Regions from separate parts of the Homo sapiens genome. Here region 1 is linked to region 2. The links come from fine-mapping of genetic effects on gene expression. Tissue or cell type: whole blood. Region 2 holds a variant in brackets; the other region holds the start of a gene. All regions are shown on one strand. Distances are between the middles of the regions.

Evidence for each region. PIP is the estimated chance that this variant, and not a neighbour inherited with it, causes the effect.
Region 1: it holds the start of ITFG2, and the variant in region 2 is fine-mapped to the expression of ITFG2 in whole blood (TOPMed, PIP above 0.99). The same link has a PIP of 0.9 or more in T cells, blood mononuclear cells, lung and monocytes.

What each region holds. Positions count from the first base shown.
Region 1 is chr12:2,811,356-2,813,982 of GRCh38, forward strand. ITFG2 (integrin alpha FG-GAP repeat containing 2) reads left to right here and starts at 1,313. Exons shown (of 12, transcript NM_018463.4): 1 at 1,313-1,501. The coding sequence starts at 1,406. ITFG2-AS1 (ITFG2 antisense RNA 1) reads right to left here and starts at 1,569. Exons shown (of 4, transcript NR_146317.1): 1 at 1,207-1,569. RefSeq lists enhancers at 860-1,609, 1,340-1,589 and a silencer at 1,140-1,229.
Region 2 is chr12:2,835,214-2,837,969 of GRCh38, forward strand. It overlaps a transcript of ITFG2 not described here. Among named protein-coding and RNA genes, the nearest start is that of NRIP2, 1.6 kb to the left of the region's middle. RefSeq lists enhancers at 1-48, 49-592. The variant C/T (reference allele first, on the strand shown) is at 1,591.

The DNA.
Region 1 (2,627 bases), 24 kb before region 2:
GTGGTGGCGCTCGCCTGTAGTCTCAGCTACTCGGGAGGCTGAGGCAGGAGAACTGCTTGAACCTGGGAGGCAGAGGTTGCAGTGAGCCGAGATTGCGCCACTGCACTACAGCCTGGGCAACAGAGCGAGACTCTGTCTCAAAAAAAAATAAAAATAAAAATAAAAAAAAAAAAGATAAAAAGGAACAGCCCCTGGTCCAAAATCCCAGATAAGGTAGAATCATTTTTTTTTTTTTTTTGAAACACCAAGTGCGAGTCAGCCTGGGTTTTTAGACCTAAATCTAAAAATGTATTGAACACCTGTATGATTTCATAAATATTGCCCTGATTGACGAGGCACCCCAAAGAAAGGCAGAACTGGATTCAACATGGAAAGAAAGTATCCCAAGAAGCCAGCCATGAGAGTGACAGTCCCATCTGTGCTACAAGAGTAAGGCTACTGAGGTTGAGATGCAAGAGCTTTGTGCTGGGGGGCCACAAGACAGAGCAGATCCGGAATCCAGGCAACCTTCACTTCCAGCCTGAAGACTCTCCTACGAACTATGATAGTAAATGATGGAGAGGCCCTAGGGTTTGGGATCAAACAATTCTGGTTTGAGCACGCACCCCGCCCCACAATCCTTCCTTCTGCCATTTTACTTAATCTTGCTGAACCTGTTTTCCTCAGCCAAAAAAAAAAAAAGCTCGCATAGTGGCTGAACTAATTATGTGAAATATGTGAAATGTGCTTTGCAGCAGGTGGCTTTTAAACTATTGACCAGAAAACACATACACTGAAAAAAAAAATTTTTTTTACATTATAAGCCAGTATACACATATAAGTATATACAATTGAAACAAGAGTTTCACAAAAACTGTACTTACCTTACTACCTGGGAGTCACTTGGTATATTACTATTGTATTTAATTTTTTATATGCTGATTGCAACTCACTACATTGTTTTCACTCCTAATGGGTAGTTTTTTAAAAACACTTTTCAAAACCATGCAATTATCAGTTATTACGAAGATTAGTAAGATTCTCAGGAATGGTCTGATGGCTAGGAATCTTCATTGCCAGGGAAACAAAGGAAAAAGGTCAAGGTTATTAGGTCAAGCCCTTGGGAGCCCTGTTGCCAAGGGAACAGATCGACCCCCGTCAGGGTTGGTTTACCCACGGTCTGCAGCCCTGTGGAGAAAAGGAGTGGCCCGTGGGCCTGTCACTCACATCAGAGTTGGGAAGCCCGCCTCCAAGCCCGGAAGACCCGCCTCCTCTGTAAGGTTAAAGGAGGAAGAGGCAGAGATTGGAGGTTCAGGCAGTGACGTAACTTGCTGCCTTAGGTGGCCTTCCGCTCTGGCGGCTGTCGCGACGGGGGTTCAGGGAATATTTACTGGGCCTCTCCGCTCCCTCTGCTCTTGGAGGTGCCATGAGGTCAGTTAGCTACGTGCAGCGCGTGGCGCTGGAGTTCAGCGGGAGCCTCTTCCCGCACGCAATCTGCCTCGGAGACGTTGATAACGATACGGTAGGTGCATGCGCACCGCAAGAGACAGCCTGGATCTGTGCAGGGACGGGGCAAGGGAAGTGGAAGAGGCCGCCCGAGCGTGCCACGTGAGCGTGAGCATGCGCGCTGTGGCTAGTTTGGAGCGCTAGAGAGAAAAACTTTATTGATAGCTTCAGTGTTCGTGGTTGGTTTTGTTCCTTGGGAGGTTTTGTTTGTTTTTTGAGACAGGCTCCGTCTGTCACCCAGGCTGGAGTGCAGTGGCTTGATTTCGGCTCACCGCAACCTCTGCCTCCCGGGCTCGAGCGATTCTCCTACCTCAGCCTCCCAAGGGGCTGGGATTACAGGCGCCCGCCACCACGCCCGACTAATTTTTGTGTTTTTAGTAGAGGTGGGGTTTCACCATGTTGGCCCAAAGTGCTGGGACTACAGGCCTGAGCCATCGTGCCCAGCCCTTCTCGTTTTTTAAATAAATTACCACAGGTCAAGCAGGTAAAACAATGCCTGGCACACAGTTTAGTGCTCACTTAAGTGTTAGTGGTGGTGGTGGTGGTGTTAGTATTTTATTCTGTTTTTCTGCAAATCTTTACTGAACTGCTCATTATGCACCAAGGACTCTGCTACATTCTAGGAATTCAAAAATGAACGAGAGAGTTCCAGTCCTCAGATAGCTCATAATCAAGCTGTGTAATAGTCACCGGATAATAAAATGTAATGAGATGCATTGACTAAAGTATGGAGAGGATTCTCCGGTGGAGCATTAAAGGGAATAGTGTCTGATGCTCTTTTTTTTGCAGACTTTATCTTTTCATTTATCATCTATTTCATAGTTCTAATGCAAAGCACTGTATTGCCCCCTTCTACCCTCTGCCCTATCTTCCTACTCGGCCTCCCTGCTTCACAGTTCCTTAACTGTCCTGTACTTATTTCCCACCGCCCCCTAGTGCTGTGATGCAGAAGGTATCTTATGAGGCCTTTTTTGGCTCTACCCTCTCTGGGGAGGAAAGAGTTATTCTCATAAATTTGTGTTATGTTTTCTGGGCTTTCGTGTTTCTTCATGAACTGCCAAGCAGTCCAATTTTATGAGAAAATTAGAGGAGGAATTTTTAAAATTTTTTTGTTTTTTATAGAGACAGGGTCTCACTCTGTT
Region 2 (2,756 bases):
TGAGAGACAGTGCTGTAAACTGTCAGGGTGCCCGTGCCAGGTGGTTTGCGAGGAAGCGCTTGTCACTGTGTGGGGGCAGCAGCCTTAGTGCACCTCCCAGCGTGTGTGGCCCCCGCCCTCCTCTGCATCCCTCCCAGGCTTCCCAGGACTGCCCAGCTGTTTTCTCCTGGCATTATCTGCAGCCCAGGGCTGGCGCGCAGGCCAGTAACTGGGTTCAGATCAAAGAGGGGCAGCATGAGAGCGTCCTTCCCTCCTCTCATCCCCCTAGCCTTACCTTGTTAGGTCTCTTGCCTCCCGCCTAGCAGATGTCAGAGTCTTTAACTAATTGACTCTGGATTCTGGGTTCCAGGGAATGACAGGAACAACTCTGAATCTTCCCACGAGTAGAAATTGTCCCTGGCATCTCAGTCTCCTTTATATGACTCTCCTCAAGTCCTGGCTCTTTAAAAAATGTTGCATTTCAAATATACAGAAGTTATAAAGAATAAGATAACCAGTACTCTTCACTCATCACCAGTTTAAAAAATAAGCTGTTGAAGCTCCCTGTGCACTTCCACTTCCGCCTGCTGAAATTGGTGTTTATCAGGCCCAGACTTCTTTATATTCTTTATGCAAATACTTACATATGCATTCTAAGCAATATGTCGTTGGTTTTGTCCTACTCACTGTATTTATTCTTCTGCAATCTGCTCTTTTTTGCTGAATAGTTTTTGTTAGTGAGATTCATCCATACGGTATGCCCAGCTCTAGTTAATTGACTTCACCTGCTGTGTAACATAGTATTCCATTAGATGCATGCATGACATTGAGGAAATGTAGGTTATTTTTCATTTTTAGGTCTAACAAACAATGCTGCTATGAATATTTTTGCACACATCTCCTGGGGCACCTATGTAGGCATTTCTCTAGAGTATACACCTACACCTAGGAGTGGAATTGCTGGGGCATCCCATATACAGCTTTGCCTTTTTGGCATATTGCCAGAGTGTTTTTACCAGTGCACACTGAGACAGCTGCACACAGGGGCTCCTGAGGTTCCACATCCTCTCCAGGACTTGGTATCAGACTTTTTCTAGCCCTGGCTTATCAGCAGATTTTTCTCTCCAGCCTTTCCTCTTCACCATCAGGGAAACGCATTGGCCAAGCACCTGTTTACCTGTGTTGGATGCTCACAGGGTGATTACCCCACCTGAGCCCTGCTCCCTAAGGGTGCAGTCTGACTCAGACAGCTCCAAGGCACATGTACTTTCAGACAAACCAGATGTCTGCTGAGCTTCTAGGAACCAAGCCTCTTTGAGACACTTTCACAACCACTGCAATTATATGAAGAAATACTGTATTCTAATCCCCATTTAGAGGGAAAGAAAGTGTTATGGGTTGAATTGTTTCCTTCACCCCCCAAATGTACCCCTAACCCCTAGTACCTCAGAAGGCGACCTCATTTGGAGATAGGGCCTTTACAGATATGGTGAAGTTAAGATGAGGTCATTAGGATGAGCCTACTCCCATATGACTGCGCTCTTATTAAAAGGAGGAAGTGGGACGCAGAGAGAAACGCACATGGGGAGAACGCCACGTGAAGGCTGAGGT[C/T]GGGATAATGCATCTGCAAGCCAAGGAACACCTAAGAGGACCAGCAAACCACCAGAAGCCAGGGGAGAGGCGTGGAACAGACCCTGCCTTACAGCTGTCAGAAGGAACCAACCCTGCCAACACCTTCCTGTTGTACTTTCAGCTTCCAGAACTGTAAGATGACAAATTTCTATTGTTTTAGCCACTCAAGCTTGTGATACATACTTTGTTATGGCATCCCCAGGAAACTAGTACATTAAGTCTTAGGACCCAGCACAGTGGTTCACGTCTGTAATCCCAGCACTTTGGGAGGCTGAGGCGGGTGGATCACCTGAGATCAGGAGTTCGAGACCAGCCTGGCCAACATGGTGAAACGCTGTCTCCACTAAAAATGCAAAAAATTAGCTGGGCATGGCCGGGCGCGGTGGCTCACGCCTGTAATCCCAGCACTTTGGGAGGCCGAGGCAGGCGGATCACGAGGTCAGGAGACCGAGACCATCCTGGCTAACACAGTGAAACCCCGTCTCTACTAAAAATACAAAAAAATTAGCCGGGCGCGGTGGCAGGCGCCTGTAGTCCCAGCTACTCAGGAGGCTGAGGCAGGAGAATGGCGTGAACCCGGGAGGTGGAGCTTGCAGTGAGCCGAGATCACGCCACTGCACTCCAGCCTAGGCGACAGAGAGAGACTCCGTCTCAAAAAAAAAATTAGCTGGGCATGGTGGCACACGCCTGTAATCCCAACTACTTGGGAGGCTGAGGCAGGAGAATTGCTTGAAGCCGGGAGGAGGAGGTTGCAGTGAGACAAGATTGTGCCATTGCACTCCAGCCTGGGCAACAAGAGTGAAACTCCGTCTCAAAAAAAAAACCCAAAAAACAAAAACAAAACAAAATTAAAAATTAGCCAGGTGTGGTGGCATGTACCTATAGTCTCAACTACTCAGGAGGCTGAGGTGGGAGGATCACTTGAGTCCAGAAATTCGAGGCTGCAGTGAGCTATGATGGCACCACTGAACTCCAACCTGGGTGACAGAGCGAGACACTGTCTCTAAAAGAAAAAAATTCTTAGAAAATATGCCCAAGATTCAGTTATGATATAGCAGAGCAGGTGGTCCAGTCCTTGTGTTCTCTCTCCCAAGGTCTGTTCAATTTACGCTGTGCCTAAAGGAGAATACTGATAGAGATGATAA